Linked DNA regions of Homo sapiens: region 2 is linked to region 1. A link means that fine-mapping ties the variant in region 1 to the plasma level of a protein whose gene starts in the linked region. Region 1 holds a variant in brackets. A gene starts in the other region. All regions are shown on their forward strands. Region 1 holds the start of RREB1 (ras responsive element binding protein 1). Region 2 holds the start of PROK1 (prokineticin 1).

The links. A credible set is the group of variants that fine-mapping cannot tell apart. PIP is the posterior inclusion probability: the model's chance that the variant is causal. The UK Biobank Pharma Proteomics Project read protein levels with antibody pairs (Olink). The fine-mapping took linkage between variants from a reference panel, not from the people measured, so its PIPs are less certain.
Region 2: it holds the start of PROK1, and the variant in region 1 is the best candidate, but not a certain one, in a credible set for the plasma level of the PROK1 protein (UK Biobank, PIP 0.63).

Annotation. Positions count from the first base shown.
Region 1 is chr6:7,106,845-7,111,231 of GRCh38, forward strand. It overlaps RREB1 (ras responsive element binding protein 1), which reads left to right and starts at 1,117. Exons shown (of 13, transcript NM_001003699.4): 1 at 1,117-1,216. RefSeq lists silencers at 336-815, 876-1,095, 1,886-2,375, 2,396-2,485. The variant C/T (reference allele first, on the strand shown) is at 2,356.
Region 2 is chr1:110,449,280-110,453,666 of GRCh38, forward strand. It overlaps PROK1 (prokineticin 1), which reads left to right and starts at 1,870. Exons shown (of 3, transcript NM_032414.3): 1 at 1,870-2,009. The coding sequence starts at 1,938.

The DNA of each region.
Region 1 (4,387 bases):
ACGTGGATGACACAGCATCAGCCATTCCATCGCGGGGTGGGGACACAGTGGCGGCAGGAACCGTCCTCAGCCCCTGGCGGCCACGGCAGTTCCCCGCTGAAGCATCCTTTGTGGGGTGTGGGTAAGGGAGGGGGACCAAAGTCGGGTCGGAGTTGAGTTTGTTAGACGGCGAGCACACTCAGGGCGGCAGCCCGAGTAAGAAGGATGGCCCCGGGAGAGAAACGGCTCGAAGCTAGGGGCGGGGTGAAGCGCCTGCTCCTTAATCTCCTGCCCCATCATCCACTCGCCCCACCTGGATGCAGAGCGAGGACCGCGTGGAAAGGAAACGGCGCGGGCGGGGCTCCCCCTCGCAGATGCCTCGGAGACCCAGAGGGGCGGCGTCAGGCCAGGGCCCCGAGCCCTACGCCCCCCATCCCCCCAACTCCAGCGCCTCTGAGGTGCCCCTCTCGCAATTCCGAGGCATCACCGTGTCTCCCCCGCCTCCGTTAAAATAGTGAAACTGCGGAGTGAAGTGATGGAAAGCCGGGGGCGGGGAGTCGCCCGCGGCGAGGGGCTGCAGGGGAGGGGGCGCGGTGGCCGAATAAGGTGGCCCGCGAGCAACGGGACGATTGGGATCGCAGCCAGTCGCGGCCTCCCGGACCCTTCCCCTCGGGCAGCCCGGCCCTCCCATGGCCCGGGGCGCCTTGGGAGGGCGTAGGGCAAACCTGGGGCTGCGGTGGGGGGTGGGGAGGGGACTCCACCTCCATCCATCCCGGGATGGCAACTGCGGTCACCCTGCTAAAGTCGGGGCGGGGGCGGCGGTCCTCCCCCTCACCCCCCCCAGTCCGAGCGCCGCCGCCGCCGCCGCCGCCGCCGCCGCGGCCGCTCAGTAACACGTCCCCAGGAGACTCGCAGGAGCAACACGTGATGTGTCTACTTATCAGGGTGAGAGGGGGAGAGCGAGACTCCGAGCGTGCGGGCGAGGAAGCTGGGCGGGGGGCCGAGACGGGGGCCGGGACGACGGCTGGGGCGCCGGGGTCGCCAGCTCCTCGCCCACCTCCCTCCCTGTGGGAGAAGAGGAGGAGGGGAAGTGACTGCGGAGTTGATGAACTTTGCACATCCAGAAACGCCATTTTGATTCCTTTTCCGGAACAAGTTTGCATCTCTCCTCGGTCTCTCCCTGAAGCCCACCGGTCCCCAACGCATCATGCCAGGGAGCCAAGCGTCCTGCCCGGCCGTAAGTACGTGCCCCGGATTCCGACTCGCGGTACGCCGGCGGCAGCGAGAAGTCTGGGGCACAGCCGGAGCGACCTTTTAAAGAACTTTGGGGATGGGGAGGGTGAAGTCTGCAGAGCGCGTTGTACTTTTGAAACTCGGTGTGTCCCGGAGCCGGGGACCCGCACGCCCCACTCCGCGCAGCGTGCGCTCGGGCCGGCGGGGCGGCCAGGGATGAGCGGGGCAGCCCTCTCCCCTCGGGCTGCGCGCCGGGCCATTCCTCCTCCTCCTCCTCCTCCTCCCCTTCCTCCGCTCTTTTCCCTTTCCCGAGCCGCCGGCTCTGCCAACCAGCTCCCAGCGCGAGCCGCCGCAGCGCCCCGCCAGCAGGACCTGATGCGCATCCATATTAGCCGTCCGAGCGCAGGAATCCGGCCCGACCCGCGCCGCCGAGTTTATTTTTAACCAGCACCGCCGGGACTCGGATGGTGCGCGCACCGCCGGCCAGAAACATCTTCCCAGCGCTGCTCTCCATCTTCCGCCCTCTCTCCCTCGACATCCTCCCCCCCATGTGGGAGGGGAAACTTTTCTCCTACATACTTTCGAGTCCTTCTCGGGCCGGGAAGCGCGGAGATGACGGCGCCCGCCCTCCCGCCGCCGCCCTAAGGTATCCGGGGGTGCCTGCCCGGGGTGCTCGCGCGGGGGTGCCTGCTCGGGGCTGCTCGGTGGGAGCATCCGCCGCGCCCTGCTCTGCGGACTTTGAACCTCCCGGGCGGACGGCGCCGGCCGGGAGGGGGCCGCGGGCAGCCCCGCGCCCTCGCGGGTTCCCGGCTGGCGGTCGTGGTCACGCCGACCACCGCCCCGGGGGGCCTGGGGAGGAGGGGACCGGGCCCTAGCCGTGCGGGCACGTATTGTTCCCTCGCCCTTCCGTTGGCGGGGTGAGTGTTTTCGTGGGAGCCCTCGGTGTGGAGCTAGCCTGCCTCGCGGGCGGGGGGGGTGGGGGGCTCGGCGCCGTCACGAGCACAGGAAGGAGGCCGGGAGCATCCGAGGCGGGGCCGGCCGCCGGGGCCCGCTCCGCCGCCCAGCTGTGGAGCGCGCTCGGAAACTTTTGTCCGCCGCCCGCTGGACCAGTTTTTCACGAGTTCTGGGGCTTCCCTTCCTCCT[C/T]CCATCCCGGCCCCCGGCGTCTAGCTGGGTGGGGGGAGGGGGCCTGTTGCTGCCCCCCCCGCCCCCAACTTCCCGCACAAGCCTTGGGCCGGGCCCCCCGCGCCCCCTCCCCGCTCGCGGTCTCTTAGGAAACTGCGACCTTAATGGTTGCTAAGGAGCAGGGGAGGTCCTTCCCGTCGCCGACCCCCTCCCTGGGAAGCGGCGTGTTTTCTGGACCGGGCCAAGGGCGCGTCGAGGATGTGACCTGCTCCGCGGCCGCGCGTGAGTGCGGGGCGCGTCGGCCGAGCCCACCGATGGGCGAGGCCACCTTTCTCTCCGGGCGGGGCGGGGAGCTGGGGGACGCGGGGACCCCACGGGGTGCGGGCCCGGGCCGCTTGACAGGCGCCGCGTGCAGCTCGCGCCCCTCGGCCGCCGTGCATCCGTGATGGGTTATAAAAGAGGAGGAAAGTATTTCTCCTTGCTCAGCAGATTTGCCCTCCCTCGCTCCTTACTGGTTAGGAGATAGAACGTGAGCCCAGATCCGGACGAGCAGTTCACATTCCATTACGAAATTCTACACGGCTTCAGAGCCAGCAGCAGCACACATTCGGGGCACTTTGGAGGGGTTTTCTTCGTTTGAGGATGCTCCTGCTGCTGCTGCTTGTGATGGTGGTGGATGTGGAGAGAGACAAAAGGGTGAATAAAAAAATATAACGTTTTGGTATGTTGAAAAACCTGTCCGGGGGTTTTCATTAGTAGAAAATTGAACCCTCTTAGAGTTTAGATTTAAGCTTAGCTCTTTAAAAGCCAGTGGAAATAAAGTTTGCCTGTTGAATGGTGTTGCTGGAAATAGCGAGGAATTTCTGTCTTAAGAAGAAATGATTTCTGCAAAGGCAGAGTTGCTAGTGCATCTCCATTATTTTTGATATTTTTTTTCCCCTTTATATATGTAGTGGACCCTGCATGTGTGCGAGTTGATTCTGAAATAAGTTTAATTGAAGTGGAAGGTGGGGAAAAGAGAACTGCCAAGAAAAGAATGTGGTTTAGTTTTGTTTTTTCACACCCATGAAAATCATCCTCTAGATTTGGTGCTTTTTCAAGTAGGCAGGTATAGTTTCTAAGACATATTTCAACCCGGAAGTCTGAGTTAGATAGAGGCCAAAGTGTTGGCTAAAACCTCTTTGAAAAACAAACGTTGAGTTTTGTGCTATCTTCAAGAGTCCACAGAACTTCTGAAGGAATGGGTTCGAGCTACTCTACAAGTAATTTATACAAAGACAGAATCACTAATTTTAGGGGTGGTGTGTGTGTGTGTGTGTATGTGTTTACCTCCGCCCTTTGGAGGGAGCCTTCTGGGTACCCGCTGATGGGTCCTGCTTTGATGTGCTTTGAGCTTTGGTTACACTGATGAATTAAACATTTGAATGGCTTTAATCAAGTTTTAAATGTGTTAAAAAAATACCTTTCCCCCATTTTTACAAAAGAAAAGGAGAGAAGAACTCTTTGATTTAGTTATTTGCTTAGCTTGTGCTCCATTTTAGGTTAATGAACTTGCATTGTCTTTGTCTTAAAAATACTGCTAAACTGGTTGCATTTTAGAATGTCTTGTTTTTAAAGAGGATTTGCTGGATGTGTAATACTCTTAAGAAATGCTGCCGATGCTTACCGTTTTGTGGAATATCATTCTCTGGGTTTTTCTAGATACTGCTTTATTTCTCATCAGAAAATCAGACTCTAAGCCCTTATGGCAGACAAGTATTTGTTATGTGATGGGGAACATGCGTCTTATTGAGCTGGTACAGGTAGTGCATCCATTCCTAACTAGTTACATCATCCAACAAGCGACCTTTTGATTGAAGGGTCTTTTAAATTTCTTCGGGCAGACTCCCAAGGCCTTATTTGTATCCAACACAGGTACAGCGTGTTGAAGGAAGAAAATAAACCTACACGTATTAGTCCAGCATCTGATCAACAGCAGTTTATTGGTTACCTGCTGTGTGCCAGGCACTGTACAGTGTAGCTGCCTTAGGTCGTTTTTGCTCTTCAATTTTGA
Region 2 (4,387 bases), not on the chromosome of region 1:
GCTCACTGCAACCTCTGCCTCCCAGGTTCAAGTGATTCTCTTGCCTCAGCCTCCCGAGTAGCTGGGATTACAGGCGTGAGCCACCACAGCTGGCTAATTTTTATATTTTTACTAGAGATGGGGTTTCACCATGTTGACCAGGCTGGTCTCGAACTCCTGACCTCAAGTGATCCGCCTGCCTCTACCTTCTAAGTGCTGGGATTACAAGCATGAGCCACTGCGCCTGGCCTTCCTTTTTAACAGTGCTCAACACAACTGGCCATTTTATTACAAATCTGTTTATTTGTCTATTACCCGTCTCCTTGACTATAGTCAAAATTACATGAGGACAGGGTTTTGTTTTGTTCACTGCTATATTCCCAGTGCCAAGAACAGTGTCTTCTATACAGTAGGCTCTCAATAAATATAGTCAATGAATAAATAAATAGATGAATACTCGCAAAATCGTATGATGTAAATGCTATTCTTATCCCATGTTATAGATAGGAAAACTGAGGCTTGGAGAGATTAGCAATATTTTCAAGGTCATGAAGCCATCGATCTGAATCAAAGCATCTGCCTCTGGGGGCTTAGCTCCCAGCTCCCGTGCTAGTTAACCTTCCTCTCTGCACTCATAAATGCCTATCAGCGTTTCAATGTGGAAACCCTAGACCCCTGTGACATTTGATAAGAAAGGTTTTGTGGATGAATCTGCTTGTGAAATACTACAAACTGCATTTCCCACTTGGTGTTTCAAACACTTATTAGCATATGAAAGGCCCTGAAAAGTTCTGCAAAAAACAAGCCGGTTTGTGTTTCCCAAATTTTTGACTGTAGAAGTCTTTTATTTGTTTATTTGTGTATTAACATATTGCAACACATACCTTGGGAAATGTTGGCTTTTATTACTGTGGAGAGAAGGCAGATCATCTGACAAAGCACTGGGAGCTCTCTCTGGGTCGTATGACACAGAGAGGGCTGGGGTCAGGGGCTTCCCTCACAGGCGGAGGGGCCATCCCGAAAGTCAACTTCCCACCAGACTGGCATCTGAGACCACCGTGTTTATACACTCACGGATAAGGCCACTCTCATGCTCACCCCTAAAACTGGAAGGCCAGTGGTGTGGCTCTGGTACCTTTCAGCCACAGCCCATACCAGCTCGGCTCTGCAGGGTACTGAGAGAGTGTGTGCCCTGTATGTTTGCTGGCTTTCTGCCCTTGGGTCATTGTACCAAGGGACACTTGCTGGTGTTCATCCTGAGCCCATGAGAGAGCAAATCCTTATGTGTGTGTCACTTAGGAACATCAGCCCCACAAGTCTGGTCTTTTTTTCCTCACTGTCTTATGGCTCCTCACTATAATTTTAACCTTTTAGAGAAATAAGGATACCACCTCACCCTCTTCTGTCTTCTCAGCTACCTCTGTGTTGAGCCCATGGTAAATGCCTAGATAAGTCTTGGTGTGAGTGAGAGGGAACCAATAATCTTGTATGTTGCATAGTTTGGTGCAGGGAAGCATAAATGGTGATGTTGCAAATCCCTTAATTCATTACCAGAGGCTTTCCTCTGCCCCAAGTAGGATAGAAGGATACCCAGAGGCAGAAAAGAACATTGAGTGAAATATACATAACTGTCTGAATCACTGCGTTCTTGGGAGAGTTAGAGCAACCGTCAAAGCCCCCCAAGTATCCATTTTTATTGGTTTTGATGTTGATTTGATGTTGTTAGAGATTCAGGTCTCATCTTCGCTTCTGAGATCATCTGAGTAACATCGGTGTTGGAGAAGGGAAGAGCAGAGATGAGGCATCCACAGGCAGCCCTGGATCCTGAGTGTAAACATCTGGGAGGAGGCGGGGGATGCAGGAGAGCCTGGCCTCCCCAGCTTGCCAGGCACAAGGCTGAGCGGGAGGAAGCGAGAGGCATCTAAGCAGGCAGTGTTTTGCCTTCACCCCAAGTGACCATGAGAGGTGCCACGCGAGTCTCAATCATGCTCCTCCTAGTAACTGTGTCTGACTGTGCTGTGATCACAGGGGTAAGTCGCCTAACATTCTCTGTGCCTTGGGTTTTGGGAAGATGTCAGGGTCTGCACGGGTTGTGAGCCCAGGAACCATGCAGGAGGCTCTGTTGGCTCAACACAGTGTGAACCAAAGGGAATGGGGAATTATGCATTAAAGGGATTGCATGCGATTTTCAGACTAGTTAGACCTCACTCTACTAAATGGGATCTGCTTTTGAGAAGCTGTGTATGAATCAAATCCTGTTTTCAATGTGTTAGCAGAGCATTGAACATTTTGAAGTTCAGTCCTTTGGTAAAGTGAAGATTCCTATTAAGTAATAAGGAATTCCTTTATAAAGTGGATTGGCAAACCTTAACTTATCTTTTGTGTGAATTTTAATTTTTATTTATGGTCTGATTCACATATTAATATTAATATTAATTTACATAGCATGTTGACTTAATTAAAGGCAGTAAGCTTAATTAAAGGTGGTAAGCTTATAAACTTCTATTGTATAAACTTAACCTCCGCTTAGAAAGGATATCTTTGAAACTCTTTCACTCTGTGCCTGCCTAGTTAGTTCTGAGAGGAATATGGGTGCCACTAACATTCAGCTGAGTGTACCCCAAAGCAAGCATCCAGATAACAAGTAGATATCCAGTCTCGAAGCAGAGAAGCAAAGGTTCAGCATATGGGCACTGTACAATTGGTTCAAAATATTCAGATCATGGTTTTCTCTCGGAAGTTTGCTTTTACCTCAAACCACCTTCAAATAGGGGCACATGATGTGTTATGGTAGCAGGACCATTCTTACTGAAGCAGAAAGCAATGCTGTACCTGAGAGCTTTCCATATAAAATCCACTGGAAGAAAAAGGTCGGGGAAGCAGGGAAACTAACTTTTAGTTCAGCCTCCACCAGCTTTTTACATGGATAGTGGAAATGTAGAGAAATGCCAAACAATTCCTGGAATTGGGTTAATTTTACCATTCACAGAAAGGACAAATTCTTTCTTTTCTCTTTTAAAGGAAAAACACTGAGTTCAAAAGAACAAATATTAAAGGCGAGTCAAATGCTTTTGAGATCCAAAGCAAAAATAAAAATAATTGTGAAGGCAGAATTATACCTAATGAAGTGTTTACACTGTAGGCTGCCCTTCTATGGGGTAGCTTGAAAATCTGGGAGGGCAAGAACAATGGAGAGAAGCCCCGGCTGCTGCGCGGTGAGGGCAGGAGCAGCGTGGTTGGCCTGGATGCCAGGCTTGCCTCACCACCCGTGCCAGCTCCAGCACTGGCCCAGAGTGACAGCAGGGCAGGCAGATCTGAGAGCGGCAGGCAAACATTTTCACGGTGAAAAGCACAATAGAGAGCACTTTTCCCTAGGTGAGGGAAACCCAGGAAAGACAGGTGAGTGGTGAGAACAGGGCAGTAAGGGGAAGTCAGGAACCCCCAGGCTCCCCACATCCTCCATGTCCTGCTGGTGTCCCACTTCTGATTTTCAGCAGGAGCCCAGGCTCCACCACCTCTACACTCCCCTGCTCCCTGGACTGTAACTGTCCCCACATCCAAGGCTTTATGATCCTTCTTCCAAGAGTGGGACAGTGATGCCCCACCTCTATGGGAGAAGAAGAGTCGACTGGGGTTTCCTTTACCCCAACCCCAAGCTTTTGTGGCCTGGCTGGGTGTGAGACGTGCCCTTGCTGGGCTGGAGACAGGCACAGCTGGGTGCCCACCACCCGTAACTCCTCTGCATGATCTGTGGAGCTGACATCCACTCTTTCCCTCTTGGGTCTGAGCAAGTAGGAGGCTTCCAGGTCCTGCCACGTCCCACACAGCAGCCTGAAGGTGCCCATAGGCTTTTATTGGAGAAGAGTGATCCAAAACCCAGCTTTGCATTTCAGCTCAGAAAAGCCACATAGCATCTCTGAGAATGGCAAGTGTGGATGCTTCTTCAGCAGGTCCCCACCTGAGTCTGGAGCAGTTAAGAGTTCTGTCTTCCCCGGCTCTGGCTTTTATTTAACGTGGGCTCATGTTAAATGTGAGCTTATTTAATGTGGCCTTCTTTACAAATGGTACCTTCCCCAAACCAGGCAGGGCCGCTCAGCTCCTGTTCTGCGATCCTCTCTGGGAATCATGGAAGTCAGTAGAGAAACCCTGGGAGAGGCACCTGTTCACTGGGGTGCTGGCCCCTCTGCTGAGGCTGGGCCACTTGAGGGCCAGGATGGGGGTGCCTCCATGCAGAGGGGAGGGACTGACCACAGTGCAGAGTCAGGGCTGGAGACTCCTGGTCCAAGGCAGCTCAGTACTGACCACCAAGGAATTTGGGCCATCAGGGTCCCTCCCACCTCTGAGAATTCTAATTAATTCAATTCCACCAGCATCCACTGAGCATCTACTTAGCCCTAGAAAAGCTATG